Homo sapiens: one gene and its partners. The protein of the gene in region 2 interacts with the protein of the main gene of each other region in a pairwise test. Each region holds a gene or a part of one and is shown on either strand. Other genes may lie near its edges. The genes, in order: SETBP1, YAF2 and GABPB1.

The links.
Region 1: the proteins of YAF2 (region 2) and SETBP1 interact in binary tests that used the Homo sapiens proteins (3 or more experiments, as listed by UniProt).
Region 3: the proteins of YAF2 (region 2) and GABPB1 interact in a two-hybrid assay, tested with the Homo sapiens proteins (one study listed by BioGRID).

What each region holds. Positions count from the first base shown.
Region 1 is NC_000018.10:44,949,806-44,953,459, reverse strand, and holds part of SETBP1 (SET-binding protein), read right to left. Parts: intron 3,580-3,654; coding exon 120-3,579; intron 1-119.
Region 2 is NC_000012.12:42,228,191-42,231,844, forward strand, and holds part of YAF2 (YY1-associated factor 2), read right to left. Parts: exon of another isoform or gene 3,032-3,654; intron 1-3,031. UniProt on the Homo sapiens protein: Binds to MYC and inhibits MYC-mediated transactivation. Also binds to MYCN and enhances MYCN-dependent transcriptional activation. Increases calpain 2-mediated proteolysis of YY1 in vitro.
Region 3 is NC_000015.10:50,303,185-50,306,838, forward strand, and holds part of GABPB1 (GA-binding protein subunit beta-1 isoform beta 2), read right to left. Parts: intron 950-3,654; coding exon 782-949; intron 1-781.

The DNA of each region.
Region 1 (3,654 bases), on a different chromosome or scaffold from region 2:
TAATTTGATTCCCACCTCTTTGCAAACTAGTGAACACAATGTGCCACAGATGTGTCTGAGGTGCAAAGCCCAGCAATGAAATAACTTGATAATCCATTTCTGAAGAAAAACAGCCTTACCTGGAGACATGGAGGAGTCATAAGAACTTCTCTCCTTGCGGTTCATCTTGAAGGCTTGGATGTCCTTTTCCCTGTACGTTCCAAAGCCTTCATAGCTCCTCCTTTTACTCCCACTCACGTCACTGTCCCACTTGTCATTCGAAGGGTTCATTTCACTGAACACGTCCAGGTTCTCTGATCTCGTGCTGCCACCATCCCCGCCACTGCCAGAGTATCTTTTCGTGCATGAGTCCACAGGCTCACTGCTCAAGTCTCCTTTTTCCTTGGCCTGTGTCCAATGCTGGGCGTCGGAAAGTGACAGTGTAGACAGGGTGTCCACCTCAAAGTTGTTCTTAGAAGCTTTGTGGCCGGCTTCGCTGTGCTGGTGCTTCTGTTTCTCCTTATGCTTGTTCTTCTCACTCACCAGCGGGAGCTCTTTGTCTGCGCTACTCAGCCGCTCGCTCAGGATGTGGCTGGAGAAGCCTGTGGCTTTGCCTGCAAAAAGACCACTCAGGTTGTCATGGGTCCCTAGGATCCGGTCTTCCTTGTGCTTATGCTTGTGTTTGTGTTTCCTCTTATGGAGCCGACCACTGGACAGACTGGCACTGCCTACCTTGGGAGGGTTCAGAGAAGGCTGCATGTCACCAAGGCCCATGCTAACAGGTCCCTGCAGGTGTACTCCATGCTTGGCTTTATGCTTAGCTGCACCGGACATCTTTACGTGGGAGTTTGTGTGGAACTGAGGTGGTGGCACTGTTGGCCTCATGAATGGGGAAGCTGCTCCAAGCGTGTGCGATAGGTACAAAGGAGCTGGGTACTGACCGTAATAACCAAGGTTCATCATAGGCATTGATGTGTAAGGCATTCCATAGGGTGCATAGTAACTTCCACTGGGAATAGGGTAGCTGAACCCTTGTAAAAAAGGCACCTTTGTCATGGTGTCATTGGTTTTTGCAGGCCTACCACGCTTCTTCTTTGACTTCAAGTCTGAAGTCCTACGAAGATAGAGCAACGGGTCATACTGGATATATGGCACCGGGTAATAGTGATCAAAATTAATCCGAAAAATGCTGGGATATGGATTCTCGTGGTAGAAGGTGTAACTCCGGTGGGAGATTCTGAACACTTGGAACTTGGTGATTAGCTCCTCCAGGTCTGCCAGAAACTGGAGGTCATCGCGGTTTTGCAGGCTTTTCCGTTTCCTCTTGTGCTTTGGCTTCTTGAGGCTTTCGTGGGCCAGAAAGTTGTCCACAATGAGATGCTTTTGCCGGTGGCCATGCCGGTTCTTTGTGCTGGTGTCGGACGGAATGGCCTCCGGGTTGTCCAGGGAGCAGAAATCAAAAGAGTACCTCCTTCGGGATTCTGAGCTCTTCTCCGCTTGGTCAGAAGTGCTGTTGTTGTCTGTCCCAATGCCGCTGTCGCTGGGGATCGTCTCCTCACTGTGGGACTCGCTCACAGGGGACAGCGTGATTTCCTTTAGGGAGCCAATCTCGCACAGGTGTGAAGGGGAGTTGGCCATCAGTCTGGGTGGAGACAGCTTCCAGGTTCCACTGTGTATTCCCTTTTGGGTTTTGGTTGGAAGAGCACTGATGGGCTGGAGATTTGGCATAGTTTTCAACTCTGAAAAATTGGTTTCAGTGCTGGCAGGGCTCAGGTTGCCATTGGACCCACCTAACTGTGTTGAAAGTGGGTGCATAGCTGCTGGTGAAGACGCCACAAGTGACTGAAAGTTGGAAGGCACGGCTGGAACATCCGGCTGGCTAGAAACAGGCCTGGGGTGCTTGATGGCTGTTTTGGGTTCTTCGGATGGGGGTGGCAGCTCTGCTCTTGGCTTCCTGCCCCGCTTCTTGCCAATGTAGATGGTTCCCCTCTTGCTGACATTAATCTGCTTGCCCAGTTTGCTTTCAATGGCTGCTGCCCCAGGGCTGGTCTCTGGGGGAGCTTTTGCCTTCAGAGCAACGCTGCTGGAACAGGACAAGATCTGATTCAAGATGTTTTTCCTCTTGAGTGTCTTCATCTTATTGATAGTTTTGATGGTCTTCTTATCCAACACGCCGAGCTTTCCAACTTTCTTGTGAAATTTCATCTCGCTCATGGGTTTGTCCTCTCCCGGCACTAGCTGGGCCAACTTCGCTAAATTGCGTCGTCGCTTTCTTTTCTTAGTGCCAGGAAACTCTCGGCTGATGGGACTGACGGGGCTGGTGGAAGTTCCCTCATGAATCGTCTCGACTGTGAGCAAAGGCTGCTTCTTTGGTCGTCCCCGCTTCTTTTTGACTGGAGTGATCACAGTAAGACTGTCTGTGTTGGTGTAGAGAGGGCTGGATGGGGTGATGGGATATGCAGACGGGGGCTCCAGCATCAGTTTATCAGAGGTGGCCATAACTGCCTCTCGAAGCATGGTGCTAGGTTTTGGTTTGCTGCAAGTCCACCTTCGTTTTGCAGCAAATTTTGGATGCTGGATTTCTGGCAGCTTTCTGGATGGAGAGTGATCTGTGCACGTTGGAGGTGTCATGACCATGGGTGGCTTCCGCGGCTTAGACACACCTCCTGGGATAACTTTCTCAGCATTTCCACCAGTTTCAAGGCCAACTGAGGGGGACTCATTCTCTATCATTTTACTCAACTTAGGGACACGGGGATCCTTCTTATTCCCCTCAGAGTTGGAAAGTATCCTGTTAACTACTTCACTGCTCATGGTGATTCCAGAAGCCAAGGCTTTCTCTGGCATGATCTTTTCCACCACCGCTTTAATGGACTGTCTTTTTTTCCTCTTATGGTTGGTTGGATCCAGAGAGGGTGCCTTGATGGGGATAGTAATCCGGACATGACTTGAGTCATTTTCAGGATTACTGGCAGAACTCACGTTCTGCCTGGCTGGTGATGCCTCTTGGGCACTATCTGCGGAATAACCTTCCCTTTTCCCTTCTGTATTGTCAAATGCTTTCTGGGCATTCTTGACCCAATCCAGGTCTGGGTTTGGTATGGTCTGACTTATCACATCTTTTTTACTGGACTTTTTCTTGCTGCCCACCGTAGGTGGTTCTGGGGGCTCCTTTGTACCTCCTCCATCTTGATCCACCAAGGGCTGAAGCCCGTTGCACTCAGCAGAGCTGCTGGGTGGGGCTGGTGAGCTGTGGCTGCTTGGGGATGGAGCCACACCTCCCAAGAGCAGATCTTTGTTATTGTTAGACAACTGACTCCACGTGTTCCCTGCACTGCCTTTCTTACCCTGGGCCTTTGCAAAGGAAGCCACGGGCTCAAGAGCGGGGATCTTGCTGGTGCTTGCAGTTTCTCTGCCAGACTCTGGACTGATGAAGCAATTCTGAGTGACGGGTCCGCTGTCAGAGTTGGTGGACCAGTCCATGTGGTTCTGGCTGCTGCTTTTTTGCTGGTGCTTTGGTTTTAAGGTGTCACCGGTGAAGTCCTGTGGGAGGCCCGTGTCATAATGGAGAGTTGAATGTTTCTGGGGCCTCTCGTAAGCCTAAGGGTGGGTGGAGTGGAGAGGGAGAGAGACAGAGAGAGAGAAACAAAGATGAGCATGTTGAAGCTACTTAAT
Region 2 (3,654 bases):
GGAGGTGGGGGGGTCGGCCCCCCGCCCGGCCAGCCGCCCCGTCCTGGAGGGAGGTGGGGGTGTCGGCCCCCCGCCCGCGCCAGCCGCCCCGTCCGGGAGGGAGGTGGGGGGGGGTCAGCCCCCCTGCCCGGCCAGCCACCCCATCCGGGAGGTGAGGGGCGCCTCTGCCCGGCCGCCCCTACTGGGAAGTGAGGAGCCTCTCTGCCCGGCCAGCCGCCCCGTCCGGGAGGGAGGTGGGGGGGTCAGCCCCCCGCCTGGCCAGCCGCCCCGTCCGGGAGGGAGGTGGGGGGGGGGGGTCAGCCCCCCCGCCTGGCCAGCCGCCCCGTCCGGGAGGTGAGGGGTGCCTCTGCCCGGCCGCCCCTACTGGGAAGTGAGGAGCCCCTCTGCCCGGCCAGCCGCCCCGTCAGGGAGGGAGGTGGGGGTGTCAGCCCCCCGCCCGGCCAGCCGCCCCGTCCGGGAGGGAGGTGGGGGGGGGGTCAGCCCCCCTGCCCGGCCAGCCGCCCCGTCCGGGAGGTGAGGGGCGCCTCTGCCCGGCCGCCCCTACTGGGAAGTGAGGAGCCCCTCTGCCCGGCCAGCCGCCCCGTCCGGGAGGGAGGTTGGGGGGTCAGCCCCCCGCCCGGCCAGCCGCCCCGTCCGGGAGGTGAGGGGCGCCTCTGCCCGGCCACCCCTACTGGGAAGTGAGGAGCCCCTCTGCCCGGCCACCACCCCGTCTGGGAGGTGTGCCCAACAGCTCATTGAGAACGGGCCATGATGACAATGGCGGCTTTGTGGAATAGAAAGGCGGGAAAGGTGGGGAAAAGATTGAGAAATCGGATGGTTGCCGTGTCTGTGTAGAAAGAAGTAGACATGGGAGACTTTTCATTTTGTTCTGCACTAAGAAAAATTCCTCTGCCTTGGGATCCTGTTGATCTGTGACCTTACCCCCAACCCTGTGCTCTCTGAAACATGTGCTGTGTCCACTCAGGGTTAAATGGATTAAGGGCGGTGCAAGATGTGCTTTGTTAAACAGATGCTTGAAGGCAGCATGCTCGTTAAGAGTCATCACCAATCCCTAATCTCAAGTAATCAGGGACACAAACACTGCGGAAGGCCGCAGGGTCCTCTGCCTAGGAAAACCAGAGACCTTTGTTCACTTGTTTATCTGCTGACCTTCCCTCCACTATTGTCCCATGACCCTGCCAAATCCCCCTCTGTGAGAAACACCCAAGAATTATCAATAAAAAAATAAATTAAAAAAAAAAAAAAACATTTAAATATCTACAATACTTCAGGTATTTTATTAGCTTCTGGGAATACCAAAGTGAATAAGACGGTCTCTGCCCTGTAGGGCAGATAAGTGTCTAGACAATTATACTACAATATATTTATTCTCCAGGAATAATTACATATACATACAGCCATGCATCATTTAATGACGGATATGTTCTGAAAAATGCATCGTTAGGTGATTTCATTGTCAGAACATCATAGAATGTATTTATACAAACCTAGATGGTACAGCCTACTACATACCTAGGCTATATGGTAGAGCCTATTGCTCTGAAGCTACAGGTGTACAGGATGTTACTATACTGAATGTTGCAGGTAATTGTAACACCATGGTAAGTATTTGTATCTAAACATAGAAAAAGTAGAGTAAAAATATAGTATCATTTTATGGGACTGTATATGTGGTCCCCCACTCACCAAAAATGTCATTATGGAGTGCATGACTGACTCTACATACATAGAATCAATATGATACCAAGGGGTGGAGGGATGGTAATCCTAGAGGGCTTCTTTGAAAAGTACCATATGGTGGCTTACGCCTGCAATCACAGCATTTTGGGAGGCTGAGGCAGGCGGATCACGAGGTCAGGAGATGGAGACCATCCTGGCCAACATGGTGAAACCCTGTCTCTACTAAAAATAAAAAAATTAGCTAGGTATGGTGGCACACGTCTGTAATCCCAGCTACTCAGGAGGCTGAGGCAGGAGAATCGCTCAAATCTGGGAGGCGGAGATTGCAGTGAGCCAAGATCGCGCTACTGCACTCCAGCCTGGCGACAGAGCAAGACTCCTTCAAGAAAGAAAAGAAAGAGAAGAAAGAGAAGAAAGAGAAGAAAGAAAGAAAGAGAAAGAAAAAGTACCATATGATAAAAATAATTCAGTGCTGACACAGCACAGGATTGGGATAAGCAGCAGGAAATGAAGCTAGGAAGGTAGTTTAGGGATAGATTATTATTATGGCCTTGAACACTATCCTAAGGATCTCAGCCTTTATTCAGCAGCCACTAATAGGACTCAATTTTTTTTTTAAATATACAGGGACCAACATAATCACATAGGTTTCAAAAAAGATAATGAAGATCATGTTAGTAGCATTCCAAAGGAGAGACCAATTTGTCCAATAGTTCATGACAGAAGTGATATGGGCTTCTGAACTGTAACTACATAAAAGGAAAAAGGATAGATTTAAGAGACAATCCAGAGAAAGGACATGAAGGAGGACTACAAATTAGAATCAAAGCTGAGACAATGACAGTTTCTAGCTGAGGTTCCAGAAAGGAGTTTATGCCACATACAAAGTAAAGAATATACAGATGCCAAGTTTGGGGAGGCAGAAATGGGTTTCAGAGATATACACAGAAATCTATGAAAAAGGAGTCTTAGAGACATGAAGGAAGTAGAGTTTCAATTTAAAAAGGGCCAAGAACATCAAATACTTTGGAGGCGACATCAACAGATGAGTGAGATTGGGCCACTGAGTTAAACAACTAGGATATTAGTTATCAGGCCTCACACTATAAAGGAAATAAAAAGAATACCTGCTGAAGTAAAGCCATTGCATGTAGAAACCCAAGCCAATAAACTCTAGACCAGCAGTTCACAAACTTTTTGGTCTTAGGATCATTTACACTCTTAAAATTTAAGAGTTTTTGTTTTTTGTTTTTCTTAATGTGGGTCATCTATCAATGTTTACTATATTAGAAATAAAAACTGATAAAAATCTAAATATATTAGTTCATTTAAAAAATAAATACATCACATATTAAATGACATATTTTTATTTTAAAAACTTATTATTTTCCAAAACAAAGATATTTTGTATGAAGAGTGGCATCGTATATTTTTGCAAACCTCTAACATCTGGTTAGTAGAAGACACCTGGATTGTCACATCTATCTCAGCATTCAATTTGTTGCAATATGTTGTTTTGGTCCAAAAATATTAAGAAAATCTGGACTCTCACAGATATACAGTTGAAAAGAGGTAAGTAGTTGAATAGCATTTTCAGATAACTATAGGTGTTATTCTTTGATACTACATAAAAACACAGTTGTTTCTCAAAGGTTAGTTGCAATATGAAATCTGAAACCACATCAATGAAGTTTTCAGTGTTCCCTTAAAATCTGTTGGTATTTTGTACTTTGATGGATTACCCATTACAGTTTTGTAAAATCATACATCGGTAACTAGGAACCATTTGTTTGCTGAGTTATGCGTAGCTTCCAAATGCTGACACATTTCATGGTGAAATATCAGAAATTATATTCATTGATACCACCACTAATCTTCTCAGAAAAGTCTTTATACACAGAAACTCTAAAGCTCATTGTTGCTACAAATTTTCAAAAATTCTAATTTTCACTTGAATGATTATCACTGGCAACA
Region 3 (3,654 bases), on a different chromosome or scaffold from region 2:
TGAAATTATTAGTTCTGTGCTTTAAAGCAAGAACAAATAATGTAGTCAATTATTTATATGTATATGTTAAATAGATGTTCCAGGCCAGGTGCAGTGGCTCACGCCTGTAATCCCAGCACTTTGGGAGGCCGAGGCGGTTGGATCAGCTGAGCTCAGGGGTTTGAAACTAGCCTGGGCAATATGGCAAAACCCCATCTCTACAATACAAAAAATTAAGGGCCGGACATGGTGGCTCACACCTGTAATCCCAGCACTTTGGGAGCCCAAGGCAGGCGGATCACAAGGTCAGGAGTTCGAGACCAGTCAAGCCAATATGGTGAAACCCCATCTCTACTAAAAATACAAAAATTAGCTGGGCATGGTGGTGGGCGCCTGTAGTCCCAGCTACTCGGGAGGCTGAGGCAGGAGAATCACTTGAACCCAGGAGGTGGAGGTTGCAGTGAGCTGAGATCGTGCCACTGCACTGCAGCCTGGGTGACAGAGATTCTGTCTCAAAAAAAAAAAAAAAACAAAAAGAAAAAATGCTGTAGTCCCTCATCATAAGATAGACCAAGGTCCAAGAAATCAATTAGCTGATTTAACTAAGAATATACCTAAATGAAGTTTTGTCCCTCATGAAATGAAAGCTATAAGACAATTTTCATTTAATGGGCTTATACACACAAAAAATGAAATACTATAGATAAAATACTAAGTAGGCATTTAACAAAAACTAGTTCCCTCTCCTTCTTATAAAACCGTAAAGTATTTTAAAAGCAAAGTGCAAAAAGAGAACACATACCTTAAGTAAAACCTCTACTATGCTGGCATGGCCCTCAGAAGCTGCCATATGTAATGGTGTTCGGTCCACTTTGGTTCTGGCATCTCTGCTCACACCAGCTCGCAGCAGTACCTCTGTGGTGGAATAATGACCATACTGTGCTGCTAGATGAAGTGGAGAAGTTCCCAGCTGTACCACAGAAAAAAAAAAAAATCCACATTTACATTATTGTTACTACACTTCTGTTTATATAGTAAACAGATTTTCTTTACATTATCTGTTTACATAGCAACTCAAAACTCAAAAGAAATGCCTAGATTCATGCTTATCACATCCTCTTCATAGACATCTTGAAGAATTCCCAAACACTCTCAATGAAGAAGAAAATCCAGTATTTCCTTTAATTCAAACTTTCTTTCTTCATTATTTTTTATCAGATAAACTGCCTGAACAAAATTAATTTCATTAGAAATTAAGATATAGAGGCCGAACGTGGTGGCTCACGCCTGTAATCCCAGCACTTTGGGAAGCCAAGGCGGGTGGATCACTTGAGGTCAGGAATTCAAGACCACCCTGGCCAACATGGTGAAACCCCATCTCTACTAAAAATACAGAAATTAGCCAGGCGTGGTGGCATGTGCCTGTAATCCCAGCTACTCAGGAGGCTAAGGCAGGAGAATCGCTTGAACCCAGGAGGCAGAGGTTGCAGTGAGCCGAGATCGCGCCACTGCACTCCAGCCTGGGTGACACAGCGAGATTTTGGTCTAAAGAAAAAAAAAAAAAAAAGAAATCAGAGATAGAGTTTGAGAAATTTTTCTGTGTATTAGAATGTATTCCTCATACCAATCACACAAAACTTGCTAAGTTAACTTCGTCTGTAAAATTCATCTCAAATAAATGTAACAGTGTACATTTTTACTTTAAGTGGATCAAAATTGTTTTGTAGGTCTTAAAAAATTCACGTATTGAAACATCTCAGTGATCTTTTTAAAGGGATTTTTTTCAAAGGAAAAATCTTAGGTGCATTTGCCAAAGTTGAATCAGGACAAAACCAAAACAGAGCCCAATTCTCCTGAAATTGGTTCCATGTGGTCTAGTCATTAAATTGACATCCACAATACACAGAGGGAGTACTAAAATGTGAGGGAAGGAAGATTAAGTTCTATCACATGCATTTAAAGGCACAGAAAATCCCTATAACCCTCTGATTACCACATCACTTGATATTCCAAAGAACTAAGATATTTGGACTAAGGAAATTTACACATATAAACAGTTTATTATGTTATGAAGAGATTAAGTGAGATATATGTATAAAGGTCCTTAGTCCTATCTCTCTATCTATCTATCTATAGATAGAGAGATAGATATATTTTTTGTTTGTTTGTTTGTTTAATTGTTGTTTGTTTAATTAGAGACAGGGCCTCACTGTGTTGCCCAGGCTGGGGTGCAATGGATATTCATAGGTACAATTATCACACACTACAGCTTTGAACTGCTGGGCTCAAGCAATCTGTCCACCTCAGCCTCCAGAGTAGCTGGGACTACAGGCACACACCAACAAACCCAGCTAAACCTTACATTTTTAAGAGAAGGTCATCCCAGCAGATCAAAGAAGATCCTTAAACAATCCTTTCTTTCTCCATGCTTTGTCAATTTTTCTTTAACTAGCCTTTTCTATACTCTTAAATTTCAGTATTTAATGAAAATATCTCAACAGCCCATTTAGCAACCAGGAGCTTTGCTCAGTTTGACATTAGGATCTACTTTTTTATTTTTGTCTTCTGAGACTTTCCCTTCTTGGTTATTGACACAAAATATATATACATATATGCAGGGTTTTTTGTTTTTTTCTGAGACAGGGTCTCACTCTGTCACTCAGGCTGGAGTCCAATGGGGTGATCACAGCTCACTGTACCTTCAAACTTCTGAGCTCAAGCGATCCTCCTCCCTCAGCCTCCCGAAGTGCTGGGATTATGGATATGAGCCACCACACCTGGCCATGTAGTTTTTGTAGCTTTTTGGGTTTTTTTTTATTCATTTTTTTAGAGTCAGCTTCTTGCTCTGTCGCCCAGGCTAGAATGCAGTGGAGCTATCGTAGCTCACTGTAACCTCTAACTCCTAGGCTCAAGCAATCCTCCCATCTCAGCCTCCAGAGTAGCTAGGACTACAGGCTGAGCCACCATGCCTGACTAATTTTTTTCTTTTTGTTTGAGATGGGGTCTATGTTGCCCATGCTGGTCTTGAACTTCTGGCCTCAAATAATCTGCCACCTCAGTCTCCCAAAGTGCTGGGATTACAAGCGTAAGCCACTGTGCTCAGCCAATATATGTAGTTTAAGGCAAACACCTGTGAATCAACACCATAGTCTAGAAATAAAACACTGCCAGTAATTTAAAATCTGGCCAGGCGCAGTGGCTCACGCCTGTAATCCCAACACTTTGGGTGGCCAAGGCAGGTGGATTGCCTGAGGTCAGGAGTTCGAGACCAGCCTGGCCAACATGGTGAAACCTCATCTACTAAAAATAAAAAATTAGCTGGGTGTGAGGGTGGGCGCCTGTTATCCCAGCTACTTCGGTGCCTGAGGCAGGAGAATCACTTGAACCCGGGAGGCAGAGGCTTCAGTGAGCCAAGATCATGCCACTGCACTCCAGCCTGGGCAACAGAGCGAAACTCTGTCTCAAAAAAAAAAAAAAAAAAATCTTCCCACATGCCACTCCCTGATCACAAGCCCCTCCCCCAGCCCCAGAGGTAACTAATATTTTGAATTTTGTGACAAGCATTACTTAGTTTTCTTTGTATCACTTATCCCTAAAAAATATACTTTGGTTTTGCCTGTTTTGAGTTTTATTTAAACAGAATTATACTGCATGTATTTCTCTGTGACTTGCCTT